2 separate regions of the Homo sapiens genome follow, and region 1 is linked to region 2. The links come from fine-mapping of genetic effects on gene expression. Tissue or cell type: testis. Region 2 holds a variant in brackets; the other region holds the start of a gene. All regions are shown on one strand. Distances are from middle to middle.

Region 1 (2,923 bases), 270 kb after region 2:
TGAGTGTGTCTGTGAGGGTGTTGTCAAAGGAGATTAACATTTAAGTCAGTGGGCTGGGGAAGGCAAACCCACTCATAATCTGGGTGGACACCATCTAATCAGCTACCACTGAATATAAAGCAGGCAGAATAACGTGAAAAGACTAGACTGGCCTAGCCTCCCAGCCTGTATCTCTCTCCCGTGCTGGATGCTTCCTGCCCTTGAACATTGGACTCCCAAGTTCTTCAGTTTTGGGACTCAGACTGGCTCTTCTTGCTCCTCAGCCTGCAGACGGCGTATTGTGAAACCTTGTGACCTATTGTAGAACCTTGTGATCATGTGAGTTAATACTTAATAAAATTCCCTTTATATATCTCTCTCCTATTAGTTCTGTCCCTCTACAGAACCTGACTAATACAAGGCCTAAACTAATGTGTGTGTTTGTACCATAGTTTTTACCAAAAACTTTAAAAAGTAAAAAATTAAAAATAGAAAAAAGCTTATGAAATAAAGATATAAAGAAAGAAAATATTTTTGTATAGCTGTACAATGTGTATATGTTATGTTTTATGCTAAATGTTATTACAAAAGAATCAAAAAGTTAAAAAATTTTAAAGCTTGTAAAGTAAAAATTTAATAGTAAGCTATGGTTAACTTACTGAATAAAGAAAAGTATTTTTAATAAATTTAGTGTAGCCTAAGTGCACAGTGTTTATAATGTCTACAGTAGTGTACAGTAATGTCCCAGGCCTTCACATTCACTCACTACTCACTTACTGACTCACCCAGAGAAACTTTGAGTCCTGCAAGTTCCATTTATTGTAAGTACCCTATACAGGTGCACCATTTTTGAATCTTTTATACCATATTTTTACTGCACTTCTTCTATGTTTAGATATGTGTAGATACCCAAATACCATTGTGTTACAGACACCTAAAGTATTCAGTACAGTAACATGCTGCACAGGTATGTAGCCTAGGAGCAATAGGCTATACCATATAGCCTAAGTGTGGAGTAGGTTTATGTACACCACACCACACTACACCATCTGGGTTTATGTACATATGGTACACTCTGTGATGTTCACGCAATGATGAAATGGCCTAATGATGCATTTCTCTGAACATATCCCTGTTAAGGGACACATAACTGAATGTATAAGCTTGTACATATCATGTATAACTCATGTTTAGATAAAACAGGTTGGGGAGGAGAAAGAGAGAGAGAGAAAGAGAGAGAGAGAGAATACTGTAAATATTTAAAGTTTGTGCTTACCTGCCCCCAACTTGACTCTGAGCTTCTTAGACGTAGAAGCTTTGCCTCCCAAGTTTCTAACACAGTGTCTGACACATCATAAATGTTCAGTAAGTGTTTTCTGAATGTATTTTTCTATTGACTGGATGTTCACAAGTCCTTTCAAAATAAATGTGGGTTTTTTTAAGTGGTGTCAACAGATATACCTGCATGTTGTCTCAATTTTGTTCATGTATACAGATCTCTCTACTTCTTTTAATAAATAATAATTAATTGGTAGGGCAGAAAATATCTTAACCTCCACATTCCTAAGGTTTGTTTTATGAATTTTGACTTCTGACTTCTTTTTTGGCCAAAATGATTTCTCACATTTATATATAGTGTTAAAAAGTTCTATGTACAAATAAAGAACTAAGATTTAAGTATTTCTTCCTTATTTTTAGGTTTAAAAAGAATTATGTGTTTGAATGGTGCAATTTACCTGCTTTATGTTTTGGCTAATTATTTTCAGTGGAATCTATCATTTAAATTTTATTTATTATCTAAGACTTTAAAAGTGATTATAAAAAATTTGAAAAATAAATAAAATCACAATGGACCAATATAAAGATCCTGTAACTCTGGGACCAGCCCAAACTGGGCCCATGTTGTTAATAACAAAATGTTGAGTTACCTTGTAGTAACAGAGCCAAAAACTGCAAGTCATGAAGCCCAGGCATGCACAACAGGAAAAGCTTTGACCTCTAACAATACCCAAAACAAATGATTTCTCTCCTCAAAGCCAACAAGACTGGAACATGACTGGAACCATAATACCAGAACTCTTTCTGAAGCAAGGGGTCTGTTGACCCAGAAGATCTAGAGCTAAAATTCACTTCAATATACCTTACCATAACTGGTCAAATTTGAACCCCTGCAATCAGATTCTACAAATCTACATTCCTAAATCTTTTCTCTTGCTCTCCAAGCCCATACACTTGCTCCAGACCCCAGATTGAGGAAACAGATTTGAGCTCACTCCTGACTCCTTGTTGACTCATTTTGCAATAAAGTCTTTCTTTTCTCAAAAGCTAGTGCTATAGTTATTGGTTTCTGTGTACATCAGGTAGTGAACCCATTTGCTTGATAACAATTCTGAAAACAAGGAAAGATATGAGTGTATTTATGAAAATAAATACAATTATTTTCATAAAATACTATATCATGAATTAATATTCAATAAAATTACAAAAATTATGGATTCTGGAAGTACAGAAAGAAACCTGAATCAAAAACAATGAAATACTGAGACAAAAGAGAACTAGAAAAATTTTAAAGCTATAATGAAGGAAATAATGTCATATAAATATCTTCTACATTACTACAAGTAGAAATTAAAATAGCAACACCACTGTAGACAAAAAAAATCACTTGTAAGGTTAGAAATGCTTGAGAAATTATCCAACAATATGAAGTAAATGAATCCAAAGGAGGAAAATGATAGATATAAAAAGACTTTGTTTCTAAAGAAATGATCAGAAGAAATGGAACACAGGTGATAAAGATATAATAAAATAACTATCTTATTTATCTGTGGGAAAACTCATGAAATCAGTAAATCAAAAAGGCTTCTTATGAACTAGGCAAAATTAATTTTAAAAAGTCATCACCTTAAAATATCCTGGTGCTATTTTTAAATTTCAAGGAAAC
Region 2 (2,923 bases):
TCAGTTCTTATCCAGTACACTACATGCTCAGTAGTTTGCTTCTTGCCAAAGTAACAGTATGAAGGAGAAAACATCATGGGATCATTCAAGAAACTGAGTAAGACAACTTTTTACAAAGAGAGAAGGGAAAGAAGAGGGAGAGGGAGGCAGAGAAAAAGGGAAGGAAGGAGGGAGGGAAGTGGGGAGAGAGATAAAAACACTGACATCTTTTGGAGGTGAAATGGAATGCTGTGCGCTATCTTAGAACACCTTGTGCTTTCCAGTGATCCCCACGACTTTGCTGGAAATGAGGAAAGTAGTTGTAGGAAGAATGGGTTCTAAGAAACAGGCTTTCTGCACTTAAGAGTTTCCTCTTAAGGCGAAGATGAACTGAGAGACAGGAATCTCTAGTTAAGATGGCCAACAGACATTAATTACCTTGGGTAACAGGTAATGGGTAAGAGACATTGATTATCAACATTGATTAAGCCAATGTTTAAATTTCTGAAAAAAAAAAGTGTGCATGTGTGTGTGCATGAGAGAGAGAGAGAGAGTCTAAAGCCTTCCTTGTATATTACGCACTCTGACTTGGTGGTTTCAGTGCCTAGAGACAAAGAAATCTCAAATCTGAAACCCAGCTCTACCACTTACCAGTTGTGTGACTTTGGGAAAGCTATTTAAGCTCATCTTTTTTTTTTATTGGTAAATGAAGATAAACTACAGCCTATTGATGAGGATTAAATGTGATAACATTCGTAACACATGGTGCTGGTACATAGTAATCACTCAATAAATAACTATAATCATAACTATCATCAACACTATTATTCCCCAAAAGATCTATCACTCCAAAAGAAGTTACAAATCATTGGTCTCAGTCATTGCCAAGCTCCATGCCAATTCTAGAAGTCTGTCTATCTTTCTACTCCAAGTTACCAACCTGCTCTCAGCACAATGTTCTTCCCACTGAGAAAAGGGAGAAGACAAAAACTGCATGCCCCTCCCCTCTCTGATCTTCTCCTTTGCACCCTTTCCTCAACACCCATACACACATATGCACAGCCCTGATCAAGGCCAGTGATTTCAAGGAACATTTATTATATGTCTATGCTAAGCACTGGTATCAAACACACAAGAAAGGTCCCTATAATGACGTGAGATCAGCCAAGACCATGACAGCCCTGGTCGATGGAAGTGATTCTCAAATTTGAGTGAGCATCAGTCACTGGGAAGGCTTGTGAAAACACACACTGCTAGGCTATATCCCCCAGAGTTCCTGAGTGAGGCCT[G/C]AGAATTTGCACTTCAAACAAGATACTGATGCTCTGGGTTGGGAGCCGCACAGTGAGAACCAGTGGCCTGGGATTAGGAATGTTTCTCGAGGCAACTTCACAGCCACTGCTGGGAGGTGGTGTCATAGTAATAGAACCCAGAGCCACTATATGAACTGTGTACAACTGGGGTCAAAGTCATCTGAGATTCTATTCGAGATGCTGGATATCCCCCAGGATCTTGAGACACTGGGGAAGGAAGGATAAAAGTAACTGATGTCTCAGCATTTATCCTGAAAGTTCCTAGAGAGCAGGGACTGTCTTAAGCTTCCCAAGACACACATTTCCTCCTCCCTGCTTCTAGAATCAGGATTTTTTTCACAGTAGACTTTCAGTTAATATTCACTGATTGAATCAGAGGAGGGACCTACCTGCAAACTGGGCCGATAAAGCAAACTGCAATCACTCAATAAATATTTATGGAGCACCAACTTTTTACAAAGAATTCAAAGGGTTCCAACCTCAACTATTATTTATTATTACCAATACTATTATGCATGAGGATCTAGCACAGTGCTTAACACATAGTGAATTCTCCATGAATGTAATTTCCCTTCTACCCCCTGATTACCAAAGTGGTATTCCAACCTCCACCGTCTCACTCGTTTCCTAGCCCTCTTCTCCTTGGGCAAATGATTTTTGCTAGTGCTTCTTTGAGATAATTATGAAATTTTTTCAGTTTCCTACCCCACACACATGACTGCAAATATGCCCATTTCTCTAAACATTGTTATCTTCCTCTCTGCTATTTTCAAAGAATAAATGTCCTCTAAAGTTAATCCTTCCACTTGTCCTTTGTTTAGCTGCCCTTAGGCACTTAGGTCCATTAATAGTGCTCCTCTTCTTTTTAAATCTTGAGCCTCCCTCTCTCCTCTGATTCTCTCACCTCATAAAAAAACAAAACAAAACACCACACATTCTTTAAAAAAAAAAAAAGAAAGAAAGAAAAAAAGCAAATACATCAACAAATGTCCCCTCTCTCTCCTCCATCTCCATGCAGCTCCTGCTCTCCCTCTCTCCCTCCCTTCCCAGGCAAATTCTTGGAAATCTAGGCCACCCCTTGCTGATTTTACTTCCTCCTTTCCTCACCCACAGCAGTCTGGCTGCCAGCCACCCTTCCAATGACTCTGTTCTTGTCAAGGTCACGCTGACCTCTGTATTTACAGATCCAGTGGTAGCTCCACACGCCTTACCTTACTTGACCTTCCTAATCCATTTGGCACTGGGGCCCACTGCTTCCTTGAAACTCCCTGTTCCATTGAATCTATCCTTCTTTCCAACTGTCTCCCACACACCACTCCTCAGATGTCCGATGAGCACTTCAAACTCTGTCAAAATGAACTTTGTCTTTCCATGCAAACCAAACTATCCTCTTCCATTTCTTATTCATGATGATGGGTACTGATATTCACCAGCTCACCTAAACCAGAAACTTTGAAGTCATCCTCAATTTGTCTTTCTCTACCCTCCATATATAATTGTTCACTGAATTCTATTATCTATATTCCTTTAACAGCTTTGGGATTCAACTGCATCTCTTCTTTCTACTACTGCTGCCTGTTTTCAGGATATCACCACACCCATCTGAATTATTTCAGTGGTCTCCTAAGTGGAAG

What was found. PIP is the estimated chance that this variant, and not a neighbour inherited with it, causes the effect.
Region 1: LINC02456 starts here. The variant in region 2 is the best candidate, but not a certain one, in a credible set for the expression of LINC02456 in testis (GTEx, PIP 0.80).

The regions. Positions count from the first base shown.
Region 1 is chr12:102,278,017-102,280,939 of GRCh38, reverse strand. LINC02456 (long intergenic non-protein coding RNA 2456) reads right to left here and starts at 1,366. Exons shown (of 13, transcript XR_007063427.1): 1 at 1,256-1,366.
Region 2 is chr12:102,548,272-102,551,194 of GRCh38, reverse strand. The region is part of intron 11 of LINC02456 (long intergenic non-protein coding RNA 2456); the gene reads right to left. Among named protein-coding and RNA genes, the nearest start is that of IGF1, 69 kb to the right of the region's middle. The variant G/C (reference allele first, on the strand shown) is at 1,269.